Homo sapiens: one gene and its partner. The protein of the gene in region 1 binds, or shares a complex with, the protein of each later gene. Each region holds a gene or a part of one and is shown in the gene's direction. Other genes may lie near its edges.

Region 1 (8,245 bases):
AAGCCAGTGTCCAGATCCCAGGACTTAGGAGTTTGGGACTTGCTTCTACCCCCTACTGGCTCCCAGTATGACTTTAGACAAGCCCAAGCCTTAGTTTCCTCCCCTGACCAATGTGAATGAATGGTTCTTGCCTAGCCCATTACACAAAGGGGTAATAATATTTAGGGAAAGGGGACAGAGGATAGGCAAATTTATTCATCAATGCCAAAGCTCTCAGTGTGGCCCAACCACCCTGGGGGCTGACCCAGCCAGCCTTACCTTCAGGGCAAACCAGCCAGAAATGGGGAAGGTGACCAACAGCAGCAAGAACCCCAGGAAACTGATGAGGCCATGACAGAGGCAGGAGGGCCAGCTCTGGGGTACATCTGCAGGTGAGAGCAGAGGTGGTCAACTGGACCTGCACGACAGCTGCCAAGCGGAGTGAACTTGGGCAAGTGTACCTTACGCCCACCTTCCCCTCGAGAGGCTCCTTCCTTCTCAGGGCTCTCAATCTGGCTCCTTGCCTAATATTCCCGTATCTTTGGGCAGCTGCAAGTTAGGGTCTGTTCCCTCCTCCCATACATCAACACTCATTTGTCCCAAGTCCAACAACCCTCACAAGGCCTTATTCTCTGCTAGGCAACAGCCATTCAATCTCAGAATCCAGTCCGCGTGATGATGCTCTCCTCACTGGACTGAGTAGGGGTCAATCCTCTCGTTTAATTTATATTGCCTACCCATACCTGGCATGGAGCCAGGAGCACCTGGGCATCTGTAAACATGCACTGAATACTGCTGGCAAAACACATTCCTCCTATACCATCAGCCCCAGAAGTGTGCTTTCCAGGAGTCCTTATGAAGATGATGCCTTAGCCTACAGGGATAAATCATAAATAGCTTATCAACGGGAGCCACAGATGAGGAATTAGATTATTATTTTCTATTCCACACCCAACTTTAATGCCTTAATGACCATTAAAAAATGCCTATTTCACGAGATGGCGCCACTGCACTCCAGCCTGGGGGACAGAGCGAGACTCCATCTCAAAAAAACAACAAACAACAAAAAACAAAAACAAAAAAAAACCCTGCCTATTTCAATTCAAGAAAATTGTTAGGGGTCGGGGTCAGGGGCAGGGCTAGAAAGATGAGGCTTATCCAAGCCAAATGTCCTGGCCCCTGGAGATTCAGGAGCCCAAGTTGGGAGCAAAGCCGAGACAGCTCCAGAATCTGGGATGAGGTTATTTGCCGCTTTCCTCCCAACCCTGGACAGGAAGCAGTCGGGAGCCCTGCTCCATTCTTCCAGGAAGCCCTGCCCTCTGGGCTAAGCCCCAGAGCACTGAGGCTCCACTTTGTGCCTGGCTCTGATCCACCAGGCCTCTCAAGAGACTTCTGGATAGGGAGAGCTTTCAGGACAGGAAGGCCAGGGAGGGATCAAATCCAAGGTTAGGCGGTTAGGCTGAACAGCGTGGGATCTGGCCTGTAGGCCAAAGGAGCCACAGAAGACTTTGAGGGCAAGACAGAAGCAGGGCAGATCCAACAGGCAGCTGAGGACCTGTCATTTTGGCCTGCACATCCAGGAGATGCCTAGTTCCCGGGCTTCTAGAGGTGCCCCCTAGGGCGAAAATTCTTCCATTTCCCTGCAGCAGGTGCCTTTAGGGTGCTGGTGGCCTCCTCTGCCTAGACCTCGGTTTCTTCTATGCGAAATAGAAACCTGAAACGTCTTCCCAGGCCTAAAGGGCTGATAAGAGCCGAGGACAAATGTGGTGAGGTGAGGTTTTGGAAGATAGGAGCAACGCTGGCTGGCTCTGGGGCCAAAGCCCCATGACCCTAGGGAGGGCGGATCGGCGCTAGCACCAGGCGCCGGGTCCAGCCCCCTCTCCACATCGTATCCCTTTCTCAGTCCCCCCTCGTAGGGTGCGACGGCACCGGGCCGGCCGACTCCTCGGAGGCAGAGATTCGGGCCTGGGGGTTGCCGGCCGGTCCCCCCCGGCTCCGCCGTGCCAGGCGGCCACTCACCGGCCCCTGTCCCCACGCCGCCCCGCTCCGGGGACAAGCAGCCCTTCTGCGAGCCCAGAAAGCCGAAGCTCGACTGCTGGAAGCGGTCAAAATCACCCAGGGGCAGCGCCCGGTACCCAGACCTGCCGAGCATGGCTTTTGACAGGAGACACGCCCCGCGCCTCCGCGCGGCGCCCTCCCTGGCCAGTGGGCCCTACGCGGCCCCGCCCTCCTGGCTGCTGCTTCCGGCTTCACCCGCGCGGCCACCCGCGGCGGCGCGGGCGCAGGAAGAGGAGGCCGGCCGGGGCCCGCTTCCGCCGTCGCATGGCTCCCCCTGCGCTGGGAGGACCGAACTGCAGCCCAGGGCTACTGGGTGTGATCGGCGTTCCTCGGACCCCGCTGGGGTCATCGCCTCCTCCCCTCTTCTCCTACTCAGCCCTAGAAAAGCTGGAGGGGAAGCTGGGCACGGTGGCTCACTCCTATAATCCATCAATTTGGGAGACTCAGGCAGGAGGATCGCTTGAGGCCAGGAATTCAGGACCATCCTGAGCAACATAGTGAGAGCCCATCTCTACAAAAAATTTTTAAAAATTAGCCTGGCGTGGGATGCCTGCCTGTGGTCCCAGCCACTTGGGAGGCTGAGGCGGGAGGATCTCTTGAGTCCAGGAGTTTGAGGCTGCAGTGAGCTATGATCGTGCCACTGCACTGCAGTCGGAGCGAGAGAGCAAGATCTCATCAGGGTTTACAGGAAGCCAATCTTCTCCAGGATCAAGGACATGCTATATCAGCCTTCTCAGCACTCCTTCTCTCACACTGGAGGCAGGACATGCCATATCTGGACTTTGGGTTTCTCTGGGACATAGTCTGCAAATTATTCCTCTTTGTGAACCCACAGCCCAGCAAGCAGGGACTGGCATAGGGCAGGTCTCAATACTTATTTGTTAAGTAATGGCCTGGCCAGGTCACCGTGATCAAGGTGGAGTAGGAAGGCCTGAACTTTGGCACAAAAAGAAAGAAGTTTCACATGCAGACTTCGGGGAGCATGGGAGTGTAAGGAAGAAGGGGATAGCACAGAGCTACATGAGGGCAGGGGCCCCAGAGCACCACAGAGGTGAGGCCCTCAGTCCTGCAGGTCCAGAAAGAGCATGCCCCTTGATCCAGGTACCTGGAATTAACTTGCCTCTCCAGGGCTTGAGAAAACCTGAATGCAACTCGTGAATTTCCTTTGAGAAGTGTTAACTTCCAACAGGACTTTGGGGTAGTCTGGGAGCAGGCTATCTTCCAAAGCAAGCAAAGAAATGAATAAAGCTTCCCCAGCTCTGCCTCCTCAGCCAATCGCCTCTGGCCTCCGAAGCCCCATCCTGCCATAGCCCACTTCCAGGTCCCTTGTGCAGATGGCTGCCCACCATATTTGGCTTTCATGGACTGATTCTCTAAAGGCCTGGGAGTACTGACCAGGCTGGAGGGAAGGGCAGGCTCCTGAGGCCTTACAGTCCCTAGGAAGTTGCGTATCTGCCCAACCCCTGCTCTCCACCCTGCAGACTGTAAGGTTTACAAGAGCCAGGCCCTATCATCATCCTTTCTAGTCTGTTTCTAAGTTGGAACAGAGTACGGAATGGGTACACAGGAGCCAGCACAGTGGTTGCGATGGTTTAAGTTTGAAGCCGGGGCGCTGACCCAGTGAGGTCACCTGGAACTGTGCCCCTTTCCCCTTACCAGCTGGGAGTCTGACATGCTTTTCCATTGGCGAAGACCTAGCTGGCTCTCCCCTCACCCTCTTCATACCCGCTCTCCAGCTCTCCCCCTCCCTCCTGCCCCCACCACCTCAGATCCACCAGCCTTTCCAGCTGTCACTCAAGGCATCATCCTGCTCCCTCACCTCCAGTCACTGGCTTCCCAGGATCTCTGAATCAAGTCCCTCCTCTGCATCCCACAGCCACTGTCCTAGACCAGGGCACCTGCTCCTAGGTTGTCAGAGTGACTGTCCCATCATGCACAGCTGATCGTGTTGTTCCCTGGTTCCAAATCCTTCAGCAACTTCCCATCACTCACAGAACTGGTTCAATCTCCTCAGCTAGGATCTTGTCCTAGCACACTCCTTGGGTATCATTTCTCATGAATTCCCTCTTAAATCTGAAAATGGCCAAAATTAGTTCCCAAACAGGCTTTTGCAAGAGCTATCTTTTCTGTTTCAAGTGTCCCCCGTACCCCACCACCTACAACCCTAAATCCCTGGTGAATTTCCACTGCTTTTGCAGGTCCCAGCTGTGGGCTCTCCTTTCCAGAATGTCTCCGTTTGCAGGCTTGCTCTTCCATTACATCTACGGCTCTTAGAAAGCAGGGGCTGCGTGTGGCTCATCTTTGTACGCCCAGCTCCCGGCAGGACGTGGCACGAAGCAGTGCCAGTGTGAACGGATGAATGGATCAAAGCCGGGAGCAGGGCTGCCCCCCTGCAGCTCTGCCCTACCTCTCCCGCTTTACCGTAAGTCAGCGGTAGGTCTGCAGCTCTCCGCCTCTACCTCCTCCCCGCTCTGGGCGTGTCTTTAAAACCCACAGTCGGCCTCTCTGCCCCCTAGAACCGCCCCCAGCTTCTGTCTCACTTCCTCTCCAGAGGCGGGCCCTGAGCCGGCACCTCCCCTTTCGGACAGCTCAAGGGACTCAGCCAACTGGCTCACGCCTCCCCTTCAGCTTCTCTTCACGCACTCCAAGATCTAAACCGAGAATCGAAACTAAGCTGGGGTCCATGGAGCCTGCACCCGCCCGATCTCCGAGGCCCCAGCAGGACCCCGCCCGGCCCCAGGAGCCCACCATGCCTCCCCCCGAGACCCCCTCTGAAGGCCGCCAGCCCAGCCCCAGCCCCAGCCCTACAGAGGTACTATTGGGTTAGGGGATGATGGGGTTAAGCTTTGTTGGTTTGCTGTGGTGGGGAGAGGCGGGAAGAGAGGGTCTAACGGAGGATTTGGTCAAGTACCCTAGAGAGTGACACAAAGCGGGAAGTCCAGACACCAGGGTCCTGACCGTCTCGGGTGGGGCAGGGAAGGGAGGGTAGGATAGAGTAGAAAAGAGGACACGGAGGAGTTGGGGCGGCCTCGCTGGGCTGCGGTTTCTCCACTGAGCAGTTGGGCAAGGTGAGAAGGGTCAGTGGCCTCCGGGCCTGGGCCCTTCCGCCCACCCTCGAGCCCTGCCTCAACTTTGCCTCAGATGCAGGACTTCAGATTAGGGAGGATGGAGGTAGTACCCCTGTTGCGCTGGCCTGGAGCCAGGGGCATGTCCCAGGCACGGCAAAACTAAAACCAACTTCCCAGATCCGAGGTGAGAAACTGGCTCAGACTGAAGAGGTATCTTTGCCAAGGCCTCCCAGCTCATGTGGTTTCTGCTTAAGGAAGCCTCCCCAACGAACCCTTCTCTTGCCACACCTTTCCTGCCCACCTCCCACCTCCCCCGACAAAGGAACTACTTGGGTTTCTTGCTCTGCTGCCTTTCAGGCCCTTTTACTCCCCTTCATGAAAGTACAGAGGACACCGTATTACAGTAACTTTTATAAACATTATTACAACTAAGAATAACATTACTTAACAATACTAGGTAACATTTATGAGCACTTCAAATGTGCCAGGTACTGTATTAAGCACTTTGGTTTTTTTTTGTTGTTGTTTGTTTGTTTTGCTTTGTTTTTTGTTTGTTTGTTTATCTGTTTGTTTTTGAGACGGAGTCTCACACTGTCGCCCAGGCTGGAGTGCAATGGTGCGATCTCGGCTCACTGCAACCTCCTCCTTCCGGGTTCACGCCATTCTCCTGCCTCAGCCTCCCGAGTAGCTGGGATTACAGGCCACGCCACCATACCTGGCTATTTTTTATATTTTTAGTAGAGATGGGGTTTCACTATGTTGGCCAGATTGGTCTCTAACTCCTGACCTCGTGATCCACCCACCTCGGCCTCCCAAAGTGCTGGGATTACAGGCATGAGCCACCATGCCCGGCCTGTTTTTGTATTTTACAAAATGTGGTAAAATATACCTAATGGATAAGTTCCTATGTTAACCATTTATAAGTGTACCATTCAGTGGCATTAAGTAGATTCACAATATTGTGTAACCATCACCACCATCTATTTCCAGAACTTTTTCATTACTCCAGAAACTCTGTACTCTTTAAACCATAGGGGAGGGAAAGATGGCTTGCCTCCACCCTTCTAGTTTCCTTGGCTGGGCTATGAATTAAATAGCCTATGAATTAAATAGTCATAAAATAGATTACCAGCGGAAAACCCATATTTAATTACATATGTATACTCAGGAGTCCCACAATATATGAGACTCAAAGAAAGGTCAGATGATTGAAGCCTGTATAACATCCTGAGCTACGGAAAAGAGCTTGGAGCTTCTGGGTGATGGTGATAACACAAGTTATGGGAGGGTGAGGAGAGGAGCTGTTTGGTGAATAGAGGTTGTCTTGCTATGTAGATTAAAAGTTCTTAGATAATAAAAGTTGTCTGGAGCAGCCCTCTTTTAATATAGATCATTTTACTAATGTAGATTTTCTTTTAAGATATAAATGCCTTTCTTTTTTACAAAAGGAGAGCTTTTCAGAGCTATTCCTGTATCAGCAGTTTCTCAGAATAACCAGCTTAAAATATGCCAAAGAAGTATATTTCAAGAGCCTCCTGCAGTCATACTTTGAAGTGGTGTGTCCTGAGCCCCAGTAATGCAATAGCTCCTCATTTTCTCCTTCCCCTAGCCCTTGGTAACTTCTAATCTACCTTCTGTCCCTATGAACTTACTTATTCTAGATATTTCATGTAAGTGGAATTGTTACCAGTAGAGGATCTTGACTGCAAATTGTTCAGGTTCTTGGCATTTTGAACAAAGAATTGGACAAAATGTACAGCAAAGCAAGGAAAGAGTGAAGCAATGAAAGCAGAGATTTATTGAAAATGAAAGTACACCCCACAGGGTGGGAGCGGCTAGAGCAGGGCTCAAGGACCCCAGTTACAGAATCTTCTGGGTTCCAAATACCCCCTAGAGGTTTCCCATTGGCCACTTGGTGTTCACCCCATTGGTTGCAGAAAGCAACCAACCAGACGTACTTTCAATTTTCCATCTGCCCTGCAGGAAATGGGGTGATTTGCAAAGAGAGTAGCCTCTCTTCCTTTTGTTACTGAGGCATGGAGAGTTGCGGTTTTCCTTTCGATTTAGTTCTAGGAAGTCAGAGGGAATCGGCCTTAGGTTCCCTGCCTCCAGACCCTATTCTCCTGCCTCAGAATCATACAGTGTTTGACCTTTTGTGACTGGCTTATTTCACTTAGCATAATGTCATTGAGGTCTATCTATGTTGTAGCATGTATCAGAATTTCATTTCTTTCTAACGCTGAGTAATATTCCATTATATGTGTAGACCACATTTTGTTTATCTATTCATCTGTTGATGGATACTTGGATTGTTTCTACATTTTGTCTATTGTGAATAGTGTTGCTGTGGACATTGTTGTACAAGTATCTGTTTGGGCCTTGTTTTTACATCTTTTGGTTATATATCTAAGAGTGGAATTTCTGGGTCATATTGTTGTTCCATGCTTACCTCTTTAATGAACCCCCAAACTGTGCATTAAGCACTTTATATGAGGTTGGTACTTAGTGTATCTACCTTCCAAACTGAGTTCCTTGAAGGCAGAATGTATCCTACACCTCTTATATCTCAGAGCCTATTACTGTGGGTGATGAGAAGTAGATGCTCAATAAATGGTGCAGTGAGAGCTGGAGGGCCTGAATAAATGGGGGTATTGGGGTGCTGATAAGCCAGGGTTTTGCATCATCCAATGACTGGCTGGAATGGAATATGAGGTCCTACTCCAGGGTCCAGCTGTAAGGGTGGTTGGCCGGTAGGTGGGGGCTTTTGGGACTTCTCCAGGCCTCACCTGCCTCTCTGGTCCCCCAGCGAGCCCCCGCTTCGGAGGAGGAGTTCCAGTTTCTGCGCTGCCAGCAATGCCAGGCGGAAGCCAAGTGCCCGAAGCTGCTGCCTTGTCTGCACACGCTGTGCTCAGGATGCCTGGAGGCGTCGGGCATGCAGTGCCCCATCTGCCAGGCGCCCTGGCCCCTAGGTGCAGACACACCCGCCCTGGATAACGTCTTTTTCGAGAGTCTGCAGCGGCGCCTGTCGGTGTACCGGCAGATTGTGGATGCGCAGGCTGTGTGCACCCGCTGCAAAGAGTCGGCCGACTTCTGGTGCTTTGAGTGCGAGCAGCTCCTCTGCGCCAAGTGCTTCGAGGCAC
Region 2 (8,111 bases), on another chromosome or scaffold:
TCAGGAGGCTGAGGCAGGAGAATTGCTTGAACCCAGGAGGCAGAGGTTACAGTGAGCCGACATTGTGCCACTGCACTCCAGCCTGGGCAACAGAGCGAGACTCCGTCTCAAAAAAAAAAAAAAAATTAAAAAATAAAACCCATAGAATGTCTAACACCAAGAGTGAACTTTGGGTGATAATGATGCATCAGCATAGGTTTATCAATTGTAATAATTTATATTATTCTGGTGTGGGACATTGATAGTGTGGGATGCATGTGTGATATGGGCACTGTACTTCCTGCTAAATTTTGTCGTGAACCTAAAACTGCTCTGAAATCAAAGTCTGTTTAGAAGGAAAAACAGTTGAGTATATCATGTGTAGAACACCCCAAGATTTGGAATGGGACATCTAAGGGTAGACTCTTGAGACTAAGAATGAAACAGAACTGGCATGAATTGAAGCCCAGCTTTGAGAATTCTGGCAGGTAGAAAATCTCAGTCCCTAAAATTGGATTAAGGTGACTCTGGGTTCCTAGTGCCCTAGGACAAAACTCCTCTCTGAAGGAAGAAAATATTGTTATTACAGATTATTTCAGCAAAGTTTCAAACACAGTGCCCAGCACGTAATCAAAGATAATGAGGAGATAATGTGAATGAGAATCAAAAAAAGCAAGTGCCTCCAGGGGCTCTAGAATGATCAGAAACAGGATCTAAAATAACCATGTTAATTATTGTTAAGGTATATAGAGAATGTCAACTGAGAATTTGAATTGTTAACAAGGACATAGCAAATTTGAAAAAGACCAATAGAAATTGTAGGACTGAAAAACTATAATACAGATTAAGAATTATATGGGCCGGGCGTGGTGGCTCAAGCCTGTAATCCCAGGACTTTGGGAGGCCGAGGCGGGTGGATCACGAGGTCAGGAGTTCAAGACCAGCCTGGCCAACATGGTGAAACCCCGCCTCTACTAAAAATACAAAAAAATAATTAGCCAGGTGTGGTGGCACGTGCCTGTAGTCCCAGCTACTCAGGGAGGCTGAGGCAGAGAATTGCTTGAACTTGGGAGGTGGAGGTTGCAGTGAGCCGAGATTGTGCCGCTGCACTCCAGCCAGGGCGACAGAGCGAGAATTTGTCTCAAAAAAAAAAAAAAAAGAACTACTGCTGCTCTAGCTTATTTCAGCTTACTCTCCGACCTTCAATTTAGATGTTATTTATGTATTTATTTTGGAAGCTTTTCCTGACTAACTTGCTTGGATGTAGGCTCCCTTAATAATCCTCTTCACCTATTACTAGCAGCTCTTTTCAAGGCCATTGTATTTTTTTTTAATGTAATGGTTTTACTGAGATAATTAGCTTATACTGCTCACCTCTTTAAAATATATAATTTTTAGTATATTCATATAGCTGTGCAACCATCACCAATCAATTTTAGAGCATTTTCATCACTTCCAAAAGGAACTCTGTACCCATCAGCAGTCACTCTCCATTTTCTCCCTAATCCCTCAGCCCTAGTAGGAGGCTGGAGCAGTAGCTCACTAATGTTGCTTTGAACATTAGTGTACATGTTTTTGTTATATGTTTTATTTTTATTTTTAGAAACAGAGTGTATTAGTCTGTTCTCACATTGCTGTAAAGAGCTGCCTTAGACTGGGTAATTCATGAAGAAAAGAGGTTTAATTGACTCATAGGTCTGCAGGCCTAACCGGAAGCATGACTGGAAGCCCTCAGGAAACTTACAATCATGGACCAAGGCAAAGGGGAAGCTATCACCTTCTTCACACGAGAGCAGGAGAAAAAGACTGTGAAGCGGAAAGTACTACGCACTTTTAAGCAACCAGATCTCGTGAGAAGTCACTCACTATATTGAGAACAGCAAGGGGAAAATCTGTCCCCATTATTCACTCACCTCCCAAGTCCCTCCCCCAACACTGGGAATAACAACTGGACATGAGATTTGAGTGGGGACACAGAGCCAAACCATATCACAGGGTCTCACTATGCTGCCCAGGCTAGAATGCAATCATAGCTCACTGTAATCTTGAACTCTTGGCCTCAAGGTATCCTCCTGCCTTGGCCTCCCAAAGTGCTGGGATTATAGGCATGTGCCACTGAGTCTGGAATGGATATATGTTTTCAATTCTCTCGGGTATATACCTAGGAGTGAAATTTCTGGGTCTTATGGTGACTTTATGTTTTACAATTTTGGGAACTGACAGACAGTTTTTCAAAACTTTTTTTTTTTGAGACAGGGTCTTGCTGTGTTGTCCAGGCTATATAGTGCATTGGCTCACAGGCTTGATCATAGCATAGCACACTGAGGCTTCCACCTCGTGGCCTCAAGGGATCCTTCTGCCTCAGCCTCCCAAGTAGCTAGGACTATAGGCCAGTGCCACCATGCCTAGCCTAAAGCATTTTATATTCCTACTAACAGGGTATAAGGGTTCTAATTTCTCCATAGCCTTGTCAACACTTGTTATTTTCTGTCTTTTTGAACATAGCCCTTCTAGTGGGTATAAAGTGGTATCTCCTTGTTTTTTTTTTTTTTTTTTTTTTGAGACTGAGTCTCGCTCTGTCACCCAGTAACAAGCTGGAGTGCAATGGTGTGATCTCAGCTCACTGCAGCCTCCTCCGCTTCCCAGGTTCAAGCGATTCTCCTGCCTCAGTCTCCCGAGTAACTGGGATTACAGGCCTGAGCCACCAAGCCTGGCTAGCTTTTGCATTTTTAGTAGAGATGGGGTTTCACCATATTGGCCAGCCTGGTCTCCAACTCCTGATCTCAAGTGATCTGCCCGTCTTGGCCTCCCAAAGTGCTGGGATTACAGGTGTGAAGCACCACGCCTGATTGTTTTTTTTTTTTGAGACAAGGTCTTACTCTGTTGCCCAGGCTGGAGTGGAGTGGGATGATCTTGGCACACTGCAACATGTTGCCCAGGCTGGTCTTGAACTCCTGGGCTCAAGAGATCTGCCCACCTGGGCCTCCCAAAGTGCTGGGATTACAGGTGTGAGCCACGGTGCCCGGCCTCCTTGTGTGTGTGTTTTTTGGTTTTTTTTTTTGAGATGGTGACCAAAAAAACACAACAACAAACAACAAACAAAAAACAAAACGAAGTCATTCTTTTGCATGTGAATGTCCAGCAGTGGTAGTACCAACTGTTGAAAAGACTGTTCTTTCACCATTGATTTGTCTTGGTGTTTTTGTTGATGTAAATGTGAGGGTTATTGATTTATTTCAGGATTCTCAATTCTATTTGTTTATATTCTTATCCTCCATGAGTATGCCCGTAGGGCCACTGTGTATGCCAGTAGGGCCATTGTGTTTTACAGAAGAAATCTAAGAAGAATCATTCTTTTTTTTTTTTCCATTAAAAGTCATGTTTACTAATCTAGCACCACAATTCGTCTTAGAACCTCCCATGCAGTTGGAAAGGGAATATGGGAAGAGGTGAGTATGTTGGAAATGTAGGGTAGTTCTCAAATTGAGGCCCCATTTTGCTTGCTCTAAAGCCAAAAACACAGGGTCTAGCAAAGAGGAGCCCAGAGGCTGGAGATGAAAACAAAAGCTTTTGGTTCAGATGGTAAAGGAGGCCCTCAAGAGCAGTAGAATCAGTATATCCCGAAGGCAGTGCTGGAGGCATTCTCATGAAGTAGGGGGTTTCTTCTTGGCATCCAAGTCCTTTTTAATTTCTTCAAGTTTTTTAGCCAGGTTTGGTATGTCATAGTTCTGAGCCAGATACATTCCAACCACGTTGCCCAATGTAAATCCAAGCAGGAATTGGAGCATGATGTTGGTGGGGAGGGCGAGGAGGGCGCAAAGGGCTGCTGCAGCTCTGCAGGCCGGTCAGAGCCTGCTTCCCCATGCGAGGGGAGCGGAATCGCCCCCCCCGCCACCTTTTTTTTTTTGAGAGGGAGTTTCACTCTTGTCGCCCAGGCTGCAGTGCAATGGCGCGGATCTCGGCTCACTGCAACCTCCGCCTCCCGGGTTCAAGCGATTCTCCAGCCTCAGCCTCCCTAGTAGCTGGGATTATAGGCGCCAGCCACCACGCCCGGCTAATTTTTGTTATTTTTAGTAGAGACGTGGTTTCACCGTGTTGGCCAGGCTGGTCTCGAACTCCTGATCTCAGGTGATCCGCCCGCCTCGGCCTCCCAAAGTGCTGGGATTATAGGCGTGAGCCACAGCGCCCTGCCAAGAAGAATCATTCTTTAACCTTAACTCAAAGCAACCAATTCAAGGGTTGGAATTACTCACTCCCCATTTAGAACTTTCAGCAGCGGTCTTTAGCATCAGTAGCCGTCAAGATTGTGTTGGGTCGTTGCTTTCTTGTTGTTTTAAATCACGGTCATGTGTTTGGCAAGGGTGCTGGTTAACCGAAAATGTTGGTTCTAGAGCTAGAAGTACTGGCATTCAAATAAACATATTTGGGGGTTGGGGGTTGATGAGCAAGGCTGGGAGGAGACAAAAGAAGTATCTCGGCTCAGTCGTCAGAGACGCGCAAGGTGTAACGGAGAGAGCAATCTAGGTTGTGAGAGTGGCTCCAAACATTGAGACATGGAGCCAGGACCTTTGCTCCTGGGGGATGGCCCTAGTACTGATGCGCAGGACCTGGTCCTTGAAGGAGCTGACAAAACTGCCGTTCACCCGCGCGACCACCGGCAAAGCAGCTCCACAGCCTGCCCCTCCCCTTGGCTGCTCCCCCACCCATTTCCCGCCTTGTCTTTCCTCTCTTCTCTCTCTCCCTCCTCCCTGCGCGAAGCGGAAGTGACGCGAGGCGTAGCGGAAGTTACTGCAGCCGCGGTGTTGTGCTGTGGGGAAGGGAGAAGGATTTGTAAACCCCGGAGCGAGGTTCTGCTTACCCGAGGCCGCTGCTGTGCGGAGACCCCCGGGTGAAGCCACCGTCATCATGTCTGACCAGGTACCGGGCTGGGAGCCATCCAACGGCGGTGGCCAGGGCCTTCCCTGCAGGTCTGCCTGCCGCTAGGCTGGGGTCGGGGATGGAGGCGCGGGGGAGGGGAGCGCGGAATGGGGGAGGGGGCGGCCGGTGGGGACTAGGCAGGCGAGGGAGAGGAGCCGACTACGGCCGGAGGTGCCGGGGCCTGCTGCGGGGCTCCCGGAGCCGCCCGCCCCTCTCCGGGCTCGCTCATCACCCCCGTACCCCACCGCCTTTGGTGGCGGCCTCCCTCATGTCGTCCCACTTCTTTCTCCCGGGTCGACTAGGTGCAGAGCCCCGCTTCCACCTCCCTGGGAGGGTCTCTGGAGAACCCGTCCGTCTCCTTCCAGAGGACTAATCGCAGAAGCAGGGCCCTAGGCCTTAGTTATGTAACGGGAGAGAATCCCTGACTGGGAGGCTCCGTGGCCCTGAGAAGCGGCTGGACTCTCCACTTTTTGCTTCTTCGTCGGGAGGGCGTGGGGCGGCGAGGGAGGGAGACGTCCGATGTTGTTGGGAATCCTGCCTCCGTTCGGATTGGAGCTAGGGCAAGGATGCCGCTGCTCTCCTCTGAGTCTTTTTCCGTGTGGGGGTGCAGAGCTGTCGCCTCTTTACTGTACTTTCCCGTTTCTTACTCGGGATTGGTTCATCCTAGCTCTCCAGTTGTAAGAGAGCATTCATAATAACCAAGAAAGAAAATAGAACTAAACTGCTAGAGCAACAAAAAGCATCTCACCTGGGCATTAACCTGAGGAAGTCTCATATTTTTGAGGAAAAGCATAGGAAAACTTTGTGTATGTAGAGTCGTTGCAGAATATTTGCAGAAAGTTGCCTGGTAAGGCAAAGTGCTCCAGCTCACTGTTAGTATCAATAATTTACTTGGGATTTGCACTTAATCAGGAGTGATCGATTTCCCCTTTTCTTCCTCATCCTGTTCTAATTAAACAACTTTATGGCTAGTTTTTAATTCATAAAGTTTTTGTCTGGTCTTTTGTTTGCTCAGACGACTTTGACTTTTTTTTTTTTTTGAGACGGAGTCTCGCTGTGTCGCCAGGCTGGAGTGCAGTGGTGCGATCTCCACTCACTGCACCCTCCCGCCTCCTGGGTTCAAGCAATTTTCGGGCCTCAGCCTCCCGAGTAGCTGGGATTACAGGCACTCACCACCAGGCACTCACCACCACACCTAGCTAATTTTTGTATTTTTAGTAGAGACGGGGTTTCACCATATTGGCCAGGCTGGTCTCGATCTCCTTACCTCGTGATCCGCCCACCTCGGCCTCCCAAAGTGCTGGGATTACGGGCGTGAGCCACCGCGCCCAGCCGACTTTGACTTTTTACATTATTTTTGGACTTTTACTCATTTAATGGTAGTTATTCAGAAAACTATTTTTCATTCAACTCCACGATGTACTTGAACTTTTAAATTTAACACACCTATTCCCTTGGCTTTTAACCCAGTTTTGTACCATTTCGTGAGAGCAAGTGAGGTTTTTGCAGATTGGTACTATTGTACAAAATGTACACTTAACATTTTAAAGCTTAACCATAATCTAGATGAATTTTGGATGGATCTACTTACTAATAATCTAGATTAATTCCCAAGTGGGCATTGTGTTTCCCTAGGTAGTTGTTTACTTGGTTACTAGGAAGAAAAGTATAGGCGTAAATGCTTAGTTTCGTCAGCCTTTTATTTTGTTTCCCAGAAGCGTCTAGGAAGCATTTTGAAATTTATTGTAGACTGATGGAAGAGCAACATAAAGAAATAATTATAAAATGTAGAATTTATTGCTCCATTTTGAAGTCAGGTTATTTAAGAGATACATAAAGAAATGAAGGACCTAGGATACAAATAGATTCTTTTATTTCATGTTCATACTAGGACATTATTTGTCTTTTTCACTGTCATTCTTTCATGAGTGTTCAATGGACGTTTCTAGAAACTAACATGACTTGTGATAAAACAAATTAAATGTGGAAGCAGATGTGAAAATCCAGCTGTTTAGCTGTTTTTATTAAGCCAGACATTAAAGAGATTTGCAAAAATGTGTAACAGTCCCACTCTTTCATTAATTTTGTTTTGAAAAATATTTTTAATAAAAATATATATTTGTTAACATATAACAGGTTTGTTGGTATTTTAAAATGAATTAATATTTAAGACATTTCTCAGTTTTCAGTGTTTAATACTGTAAACATCAATAGATGTAACCAACCTAACAAAAGCTTTATGGGATTCTAAATAAATTTAAGTGTAAGATTCCTGAGAACAAAAAGTTTGAGAACTGTTGCTGTAGGCTGATTGACCAACATCATTAGGACTCGCCGGGTGCAGTGGCTTAAGCCTGTAATCCCAGCACTTTGGGAGGTCAAGTTGGGTGGATCACGAGGTCAGGAGTTCTAGACCAGCCTGACTAACATGGTGAAACCCCGTCTCTACTAAAAATACAAAAAATAGCCAGGCGTGGTGGTGCGCACCTGTAATCCCAGCTACTCAGAAGGCTGAGGCAGGAGAACTGCTTAAACCCGGGAGGCGGAGGTTGCAGTAACTGGAGATCACTCCACTGCACTCCAGCCTGGGCGACAGAGTGAGACTCCGTTTAAAAAAAAAAAAAAGACTCAGTACATTGGCCGGGTGCAGCGCCTCACACCTGTAATCCTGGCACTTTGGGAGGCCTAAGTGGGGGAGGATTGCTTGAGCCCAGTTTGAGACCAGCCTGGGCAATATAGAGAGACGTCGTCTCTACAAAAAATAAAATTAGCCAGGCATGATGGCCTGTACCTGTAGTCCCAGCTACTCAGGAGGTTGATATGGGAGGATCACCTGAGCCTGCGAGGTCGAGGTTGCAGCAAGCCAAGATCATGCCACTGTACTTCAGCCTGGGCGATAGAGACCCTGACTCAAAACAAAGAAGACCCAGTACAAGTTCAGTGTTGAGTGCTAAAGACTTAAAAGAGTTATAAAGCTGAACCCTTAATCTTAAGAGGTTTATAAGTGAGAACAAGAATCTCCAAATCCTGTACTGTTTAATATCAGCATGAGACTAAACCACTGTCCTAAGAAGACAACCTTAATTTGAATCAAGTTATTTTAGAGTGATGTGTTTTCTGAGGCAGCTCTCAGAAGGTTATTGTCTGGTGTTAAAATAGTGAAATTGAGTAATAACAAGGTTAAAATCGGTGGACATTAAATACACACAAGACTT

Evidence for each region. Proteins that work in one complex are often made in the same cells at the same time.
Region 2: the proteins of PML (region 1) and SUMO1 are in contact, whole or in part, in a crystal structure (PDB 8DJI), measured with the Homo sapiens proteins. Residues at the interface, in NP_150241.2 of Homo sapiens: Glu554, Arg555, Val556, Val557, Val558, Ile559, Ser560, Ser570, Ser571, Ser572, Arg573; in NP_001005781.1 of Homo sapiens: Gly19, Glu20, Tyr21, Ile22, Lys23, Ser32, Glu33, Ile34, His35, Phe36, Lys37, Val38, Lys39, Thr42, Lys46, Leu47, Ser50, Arg54, Glu84.

The regions. Positions count from the first base shown.
Region 1 is NC_000015.10:73,990,093-73,998,337, forward strand, and holds the start of PML (protein PML), read left to right. Parts: upstream 1-4,623; 5' UTR 4,624-4,720; coding exon 4,721-4,849; intron 4,850-7,911; coding exon 7,912-8,245. Other genes in the region: STOML1 (stomatin-like protein 1), read right to left, coding at 259-365, 1,999-2,131.
Region 2 is NC_000002.12:202,235,225-202,243,335, reverse strand, and holds the start of SUMO1 (small ubiquitin-related modifier 1 isoform a precursor), read left to right. Parts: upstream 1-4,738; 5' UTR 4,739-4,884; coding exon 4,885-4,896; intron 4,897-8,111. UniProt on the Homo sapiens protein: Ubiquitin-like protein that can be covalently attached to proteins as a monomer or a lysine-linked polymer.